Linked DNA regions of Homo sapiens: region 2 is linked to region 1. Evidence: fine-mapped expression QTL. A gene starts in region 1. The other region holds a variant in brackets. All regions are shown on one strand. Distances are from middle to middle.

Region 1 (4,407 bases):
CAACAAGAGTGAAACTCCGTCTCAAAAAATTTTTTTAAATTAATTTATATATGTGTATTTATTTATTCATTTATTTATTTTAGAGACAGGGTCTCACTCTGCACCCAGGCTGGCATGCAGTGGCACAATCATAGCTCACTGCAACCTGAAACTCTGGGGCTCAAGCCATCCTCCCTCTTCAGCCTCCCAGAGAGCTGGGATTACAGGTGTGAGCCACCATGCCCAGCTGAAATTTTCCCTTTTTACAAGGATATCAGTTATACTGGATTAACGTCCCCCCTAATGACCTCATCTTATGACTTTATCATCTGCAAAGACCCTATTTCCAAATAAGGTCACATTCACAGGTCCTGGTGGTTATAGGATTTCCACATCTTTTGGGAGAGACACAATGCAACCCATAACAACCTGTAACCCAATGTGCTGTCCCAAAGAACTACAACACCAGGGGGATGCTGAGGTTCAGAGAGTGTCCTTGCCCTGGTGGTAGGGCTGGGACGCAGCAGGACTGGGGAGGCGGGACCCACTGCTGCTAGACACTGCAGCACTCTTAGACACAGCTCGGCCACCTGAGCAGGTGATCATTTCCCAGTTCCGCTCTGCAGACCCTTTTTTTTTTTCCCAGTAGAGATGAAGTTTCACTATGTTGGCCAGGCTGGTTTTGCACTCCTGACCTCAAATGACCTGGCCGCCTTGGTCTCCCAAAGTGCTGGGATTACAGGCGTGAGCCACAGTGCCCGGCCCCACTTTGCAGATTTAAAAACAAGACATCTGGAAGCTCAGAGAAGTTAAACTCACCCCAGGTCTTACAGCCAAACTCTGGCTTGCCTGACCTGATGTCAGGAGGCTTTCTTAGTGCAAGAAAGGAAGGGCAGGGCAAGCCTTAGCCGAATGTTTATCTCTAAGAGGCTTCTGACTCTCCTGGGCGCCTCCGGTTCCTTCTCCCAGGAAGGCATGTGGCCGAGCTGGGCTTGGGTGACTCATGGTCCTAGAGTGATGAGTGAGAAACAGGCACTGTGAGAGTCATGGTAGGACCTGGCCAGAACTTCGTCCCCTAAGTCCTGGACTTGGTCCCTCCTTTGGGATTAGTTGGGGTCTCACAGAGCCTCCCACATCCTGGGCAAGTTACAGCACATGCTACAGGATCTTTGCAGAAATGTAAACAAACTCTTTCTTCTTTTTTTTTTCCAGCCACCAGTAGAATTTAGAATTTATTTATTTATTATTTTATTTATTTATTTATTTATTTATTTATTTGAGACGGAGTCTCACTCTGTTGCCAGGCTGGAGTGCAATGGCGCAATCTCGGCTCATTGCAACCTCCACCTCCCTGGTTCAAGCGATTCTCCTGCCTCAGCCTCCTGAGTAGCTGGGACTACAGGCAAGCGCCACCATGTCCAGCTAATTTTTGCATTTTTAGCAGAGACAGGGTTTCACCATGTTGGCCAGGATGGTCTCGATCTCTTGCCCTCATAATCCGCCCACCTCGGCCTCCCAAAGTGCTGGGATTACAGGTGTGAGCCACCGTGCCCGGCCTTAGAATTTATTATGAAATTAGACATGAGGTTCCAAAAAGTAACTAGAAGATTTTTTACTTTTTATTTTTTGAGAAAGGGTCTCACTCTGTCGCCTAGGCTGGAATGCAGTGGCACAGTCGTAGCTCACTGCAGCTTCAAACTCCTGGACTCAAATGATCCTCCTGCCTTGTCCTTTCAAGGTGCTGGGATTACAGGCATGAGCCACTAATCCTGGCTAATAATTTTTCTTGACATATTAAAATTCTGTTTCTTAAATAGCATTTCCTCTCATTTTGGATGGGTGCACGAACCTTGGGTGGGATATCCTTGGGAGGTGACATCATGCACACAGAAGGCAGGAGCCCTAAGGGGGTTGGGGATGGCTCCAGAATGGGGTCTGAGAAGGAGATGGAGAAGCCTGTTCACGCAACACTTCATAGTGGCTTGCTTTCCGCAGGGTCATTGGCAGGGCGGTCCCTAGGCCTGGAGCGCTCTTCCCGCCCATCCCCAGGCCCTGCTCCAGGTCGGCCTCCTGGGAACCATCCCGTCTCGCCAGCACACCCTGTCCCGAGGCCGCCTCTGACCTCCAGGCTGGGCCTGGTCCCCACGGCGCTTAGCGCAATCATGACTTAAACACCTATTACAGGACGCTCAGTCTTTAGTGCTTGTCTCCCCGCGGCTGGGCTGACTACTCCCAGCACGGCCACTGAACGCTTGGCCGCGCGATGCTCCGGAGCGCGGGTCGCCATTGGGTTGAACTACAGCTCCCAGCATGCTCCGGGCCGGCGACATCCGGAGCCCCTGGTAGTTGCCTAGCGACCGGGCGTGTCCCGGAAGACGGGCCCGGCGTGGGGCGCGACTTCCGGGGCGGCGGTTGCATCAGATTCTAGGAAGTGTCTGTAGCCGCAGCTGCGGGTCCGGGATTCCCAGCCATGGCAGATTCCTCCGGGCAGCAGGGTGAGCGGCGCGGCCGGGCCAGGCTGAGGGCGGCTGGGGGCCTGACTGGGCGCTGGGTGCTCGGCTCGAAGGGCAGCGAGTCCTTATGTCTGAGGGGCCCGGGTGCATGGGTTCTGAGGGGCAGCTGTGTCCGTGGTCTGAGGGGCGGCAGTGCCCGAGGTCTGAGGGGTGTCAGTGCGCGGGGTCTGAGGGACGGCACGTCCTTGGGTCCGAGGGGCGGGGGTGCTCGGGGTCTGAGGGGTGTCAGTGCCCGGGGTCTGAGGGACGGCGGGTCCTGAGGTTCGAGGGGTGGCACGTCCTAGGATCCGAAGGACAACGGGTGCCCGGCTCCGAGGGACGGCCACTGGGACCCCTGGGACTCCTGCGTGAGGGTCTGCCAGACCCGTGGCTGGAGCACAGACCCCGCGGGGACCCGAGCCCGAGCGGGGCGCTGCCCAGACCACCCAGCCTCAGTTTCCTCACTTGGTTCCTGCCGAGGTCCCCTTGCATCCTCACCCCGGGAGGTGGCCCTACATCAAACAGCCTTTCCCCAGCCGGTGCCTGGGCGGGCCCTCGCTCCCTCTTGCCCCAGCTGGCCTTTAGGGGGGAGACAAAGGCCCAAGGGTTGTTTTGGTTTTCTGCCCAGACCTGGCAGCTTCCGGGAGGTGGGCGGAGGGCACCTGAGGTTGGTATTTAGGGAAATGGGGCAGAGGACGCCAGGGGTACGCGTACACACAGTAAAAGGGCTTGGGGCTTTACGAAGGCTTTCATCTCCAGTTCCGCAGGCAGTCCACTGCAAGCTGATTGTCAGAGCATTACTGCCCCATTTTATTGCCAACCCGGGAGGTTCCCCAGGGACACAGCTGTGTCAGCTCCCCCAGTCACTCATGTCACCAGCGGGTAGACCTTGAGAGACCAGTGGGTTCTTCTCTCACTGTCCCTCCAGCAAGATTTTAGGTGCTGGAAAGGCAAGAGACTGAATCAGAAAGCCCAGATTCCTAACAGTCTGGAGCAGCCTTTCCAAAGGAAACATTCTCAGTATCTAGTTTTTAATTCTTTTGGCTGGCAAAAATTAGATGCAAGTTCTTGTAAGACACCTCCAGCCCCCACCCTCAGTTTAGATCGTACCAAGATTTCCTTAGCATCTGGTGGTGCCCTTTGCCCCTGAGGGTTTATTGGGTTATAGATAGGTAGTTATGACAACCCGAGTAATCTGGCGGCATGGGGACACCCAGATGACAGGGCTACACTCTTGTGCCAAGTGGCAGGAGGTGGTCACCTTCCAGGCACGCCGCCTACCACCCTACCTGTGTGCCTGGATTCCAGCACCATCTCCACCCGTCCCAGAGCCAAGCGGCCCTCAGAAGTCACCCAGATTCCTGTAAAACAGCATCATAGTTAACAGCCCCAACTCTGGAACCACCCTGGAAGGGCCAGGGTTCCAACTCTGCCTCCCGCCCCACAGCAAACCATGCGTAATGGCTCCTACCTTGGAGCATGGAGTGTAAATGAATTAATAGATGGGAAGGACGTAGAACAGTGCCTGGCACTCAATTAAGTGCTGTGTCTGTGCTGAAAGTTAGGGCCTGTTTGTTTTCAAACTAAAAATGTGTTTTTGTTCATTTGTGAACGTAAATGACGTATTAGTAGTGTTTTGTATCTTGTTTTTAAAAATAGCTTTAGAATTTTAGGTTTTCAGAGCCTTGTAAGAATTGCCTTCTTTTTGGAGCTTGCCATATAGGTTGGGATTGCCCTCTCCGGGCTGTCAGGGCAGCAGGCAGATTGCCCAGTCCTCAGCCTGCGCACAGCATCTCCAGCCAGTGTTCTTCTGCCCCAGGGCATGGCCCACCTGCCTTTACTATCGCCTCCTCCCATCACACACACACTCTCAAAGATGAGAACAGGAAATAAAATCCAATCGTAGGCCAGGCGCAGTGGCTCACACCTGTAATCC
Region 2 (4,357 bases), 51 kb after region 1:
TTGTGATCCACCCGCCTCAGCCTCCAAAAGTGCTGGGATTACAGTCATGAGCCACCGTGCCTGCCCGGATATGTGAATATTTTATCTAGCAGTGAATGAAGGTGTGGGGTGCCCAGCAAGGAGCTCTAGGGGTCTCAGTTATGAGGACACAGCAGGAAAAGGACAGACGAGAATGGCAGCATGTGCATGGTCAGTGCTGCCCAAAGGCAGGGCAGGCAGGAGGATGGGGTGGGATGGTGGGGGTCCCAGCAGGCTGGGGGGCAGGGCACCTGCCCGCCTAGCACAGTTGGGCGCAGCAAGCTGAGGGGCCAGAAGAAAACTAAAGGGTGTGGTGATTCCAGCAAACCCAAGGTCAGATTTCAGAGCAGAAAGTTGTCACTTGGAGAGCAGCAAGCATCTGTCCTGTTGATGTAGTCTAGGAGATGCTGTCACATCACCTGATACTCTGGAGTCTTTCTGAGATAGGTTGGCATCCCATTTACCCTGTAACACCCAAAACTTCTTATGTCCTGTTCTCTACCTGGGCGTTGTGCGTGGGCTGGGAACGGGAAAACTCGGGCAGAGCAGAGACACAGAGGGGGCGCCTGCTAGAGACTGCGTGAGGAGCCCACTAGGAGAACCGTGGGATGCCGGGCAAGTCTGCACTGCTGCGCTCTGAAGTCAGCCACAGACACATGGGTTTCCAAGCGAAGCTCCCTCCCCATGTGATGGAGGTCACAGTCGCCCTCCCTGTCATGCCTCCTTTCACCCTCCCAGCTGGGTCAGGTCCCCAGTCAGAGGCAGAGGTGAGCACAGTCTTGGGAAGCAACCTGCGGTCCACCCCCACCGCTCAGCCCCGCCTTTACAGCTGCGTGCGCTTCAGCCCTGGGAGGGCTGATTCTCACAGAGCTCGAGCTCCTTGGTGGTCCTGGGACTCAGCTCTCCTGGGTGCCGGTCAGGACCCCCATCGCAGTCCCGTGTGCATTTGGGAACCAAGTCCTTGGGGCTTGAGTGTAAATGGTCCTTCTGTAAGAAAGCTGATTCTGGCACCAACAGAGAGGCTGCCTCAGATGAAGAGTGTTAGCACCCGAAGGGACCCCCAGGCCTGTCCTGACCCTCCCACCCCTGCTGTCGGCCCAACTTGTGTCCCTTTCCTGGAAGAACTGCTTCCGGCGGCCAGTGTGCTATGCTTCCTCCTGGCTCTGCCCTGCACCCCCAGAACAGCCCCTGGGCTTACGGGAGACACTAGTCTCTGGGCTTCTGCAGCCAATCAAGCTGCTGGGCCCTCCCTCCCAAGCACTGGAGGAGGTACTCGTTCTGTGGGCCGGGGCCCCTCCCTCCTGAGCACTGGAGGAGGCACTTGTTCTGTGGGCCACGGCCCCTCCTTCCCCAGCACTGGAGGAGGCACTGGTTGTGTGGGCCCTGGCTCCTCCATGTCTGAGGGAACTGCTCTGCTTCTCCTACAGTCCCTGAGATTCTGCAGCTCAGCGATGCCCTGCGGGACAACATCCTGCCCGAGCTTGGGGTGCGGTTTGAAGACCACGAAGGTGGGTGAGCCCTTGCTGTTTGCTACAAAGTTACCAGGAGCTTGGAGAGGTGTCACAAGGAGAGCTCCCGGGGCTGGGCTGAGGCTCATGCTTCATGATTGCTGATGCAGAATCCCAAAGTGGCAGCCCCATGGGTCCCCCGGCGCCATTCCCACGCTGGCCAGCCTGGCAGGGGCAGGGGAGCACCCCGTAGCTCCTTCCCACTGCTGCGTGTGGTGGTGTCACCTCCCCTGCGCATCATCTCCCCTAGGGGCCTGGCTGCCCGCTGCCCCTGTTGCTACCGCCTTTGAAGCTCTCAGCTGAGGAACCAGCCTGTATCCTGTACACTGTCAACAGATTGCATGCTTGTTCTCCCACTTCGTGGAGGTCTTTTTGTTCCACAGAAAGTTAATTTTTTTGTTTTTTATTTTCAATTTTTATTTATTTGTTTATTGAGACAGAGTTTCGCTCTGTCGCCCAGGCCGGAGTACAGTGGCGCGATCTCGGCTCATTGCAACCTCTGCCTCCCGGGTTCAAGCGATTCTCCTGCCTCAGCCTCCCGAGTAGCTGGGATTACAGACGCCCATCACCACGCTCGGCTAATTTTTGTATCTTTAGTAGAGACGGGGTTTCACTGTGTTGACCAGGCTAGTGTCGAACTCCTGACCTCAAGTAATCTGCCCACCTCGGCCTCCTAAAGTGGCATGAGCCACATGCCCAGCCTTAGTTTCAGTTTTTATGGATACATAATAGTTGTACATATTTATGGGCTATGTGTGATATTTGGATACATGCGTATGAGGTACTATGATCAAATCTAGGTAACTGAGATGTCCATCACCTCAAGCATTTATCATTTCTTTGTGTTACGAACCCTCCAATTCCACTCTTCCACTCTGCCCCTGGTAATTTTAAATCTCAGATGTCATGTCCTATTTTCCTACTCCTGGCTGGCAAGACCTTCCTACCTTCTCGTTACAAAATGTTCTCGCCAGGTGTGGTGGCTCATACCTGTATCCTAGCACTTTGGGAGGCTGAGGTGGGTGGATTACCTGAGCTCAGGAGTTCGAGACCAGCCTAGGCAACATGGTGAAACCCCGTCTCCACTAAAATACAAAACATTAGCTGGGTGTGGGCTCCTTGGGCAGCTGAGACACGAGAATTGCTTGAACCCGATAGGCAAAGGTTGCAGTGA[A/G]CTGAGATCGTGCCACTGCACTCCAGCCTGGATGACAGAGCAAGACTCTGTCTCAAAAAAAAAAAAAAAAAAATCACACACACACAAACCAAAATGTTCTCCTGTGCTTCACTGCTGCTATGGAGGTTTTTGTTTGTTTTTCTCCTGTGGGCCCTCGCTCTGACTGGGCAGCACCGCATGGTCTGGGCAGGGCAGGGCAGGGCAGGGCTGGCCCCGCAGTGGGGACGGCCCACAGAGCCCAGACTCTTCTCACACGCAGTTTATTTTGCAGGACTGCCCACAGTGGTGAAACTGGTAGACAGAAACACCTTATTAAAAGAGAGAGAAGAAAAGAGACGGGTGAGTAAAGTGAAAATGACTTAAGCGTGATATTTGTTGAAAATGTAAAAACCATTGCGATTATTACATAGTTTACTTTTTAAGCATTGATGTTTACACTTTTATTAAAATCCCAGTATTTATAAATGTCAGAAAGAAAAATTAACTAGTATCTTCTAATGAAGGACCTCTTTTAAAAAGATTATTCCCTCAGTTTAAGTGAAAACCAGTCACTTTTGGCAAACTGTGAAGCTGACTTTTTTTTTTTTTTTTTTTTTTGAGACGGAGTCTCACTCTGTTGCTCAGACTGGAGTGCAGTGGCACGATCTTGGCTCACTGCAACCTCCACTTCCCTGGTTCAAGGGATTCTCCTGCCTCAGCCTCCCAAGTAGCTGGGACTACAGGCACGCACCACTGTGCCCAGCTAATTTTTGTATTTTTTTAGTAGAGATGGGGTTTCACCATGTTGGTCAGGCTGGTCTCAATCTCCTGACCTCGTGATCCACCCACCTTGGCCTCCCAAAGTGCTGGGATTACAGGCTTGAGCCACCACGCCTGGCCCGAAGCTGACATGTTAAGATCCCAGTCCCACCGTGCCCTCACCTGAGTGGCGCGTGTCACTGATGCATCTCCACCTCCTATTCCCAGCATACTCCCCACCTGCACCCCACAACGCCCCCAGGATCAGGGATGGCCCAAGTTCCTCGGTGCCCAATAGGACAGAAGAACAGGAACAAAAACGCAATGTCAGAATCTCTGGGCACAGCGCATGGGGTACCCTGGGATGCAGGCAGCAGGATGAGAGGCACCTGGGCCCCCAGTGCACACCATGGGAGGTGGGCCATGGGGGCTGTTGCCACCAGCAGGTGGGTCCCCAAGAGGCTTAAAGCAGGAGACCACCGTGGAGGGCGAGTTTGGATGCCACAGCTCTCAGGAAGGAGGCTCTGGGAGGAACTGAGGAAGGAGAATCGACAGGGTGGTTGATTGATAGATGGGATGTACAAGGTCAGGGAAGGCATCTATGCCTAGCCCTGCACTGGCCCAAGGCACGAGGGGAGAGCTCATGCCAGATCCAAGTGTGGGTGGCTGGAGTTTGCAGTGCTTTGGAGGAATAACGAACTGGAACTCTGGGGAAAGCTCTAGACAGTGGTGAGTGGTCTGCAGGTCCATCCTGGTTGGCAGGTTGGGAAGAGCTGGGCTTGCCCTGTGAGGTTGGCTGGTGTGACTGCCTCATCAGGGCCCCTCCCCATTCCATCACAGTCACTCACCTAGCCTTGGGTCTCGCCTGCCGTGCTGTGCTGTGAGGTGGCCTGGTGCTGGCTGTGCAGACGCCCTGGCT

Which allele goes with the higher level. Alleles are on the strand shown, and positions count from the first base shown. SD is a standard deviation of normalised expression in the study named.
As copies of A replace G in region 2, the expression in tibial nerve of the gene that starts at base 2,394 in region 1 goes up (small effect, 0.23 SD a copy in GTEx).

What was found.
Region 2: its variant is fine-mapped to the expression of CARS1 in tibial nerve (GTEx, PIP 0.94).

Annotation. Positions count from the first base shown.
Region 1 is chr11:3,055,410-3,059,816 of GRCh38, reverse strand. It overlaps CARS1 (cysteinyl-tRNA synthetase 1), which reads left to right and starts at 2,394. Exons shown (of 23, transcript NM_001014437.3): 1 at 2,394-2,474. The coding sequence starts at 2,450. It overlaps LOC124902615 (a long non-coding RNA gene), which reads right to left and starts at 1,193. Exons shown (of 2, transcript XR_007062555.1): 1 at 799-1,193. RefSeq lists an enhancer at 2,208-2,740.
Region 2 is chr11:3,004,048-3,008,404 of GRCh38, reverse strand. It overlaps CARS1 (cysteinyl-tRNA synthetase 1), which reads left to right. Exons shown (of 23, transcript NM_001014437.3): 19 at 1,446-1,526; 20 at 2,972-3,039. Among named protein-coding and RNA genes, the nearest start is that of NAP1L4, 14 kb to the right of the region's middle. The variant A/G (reference allele first, on the strand shown) is at 2,701.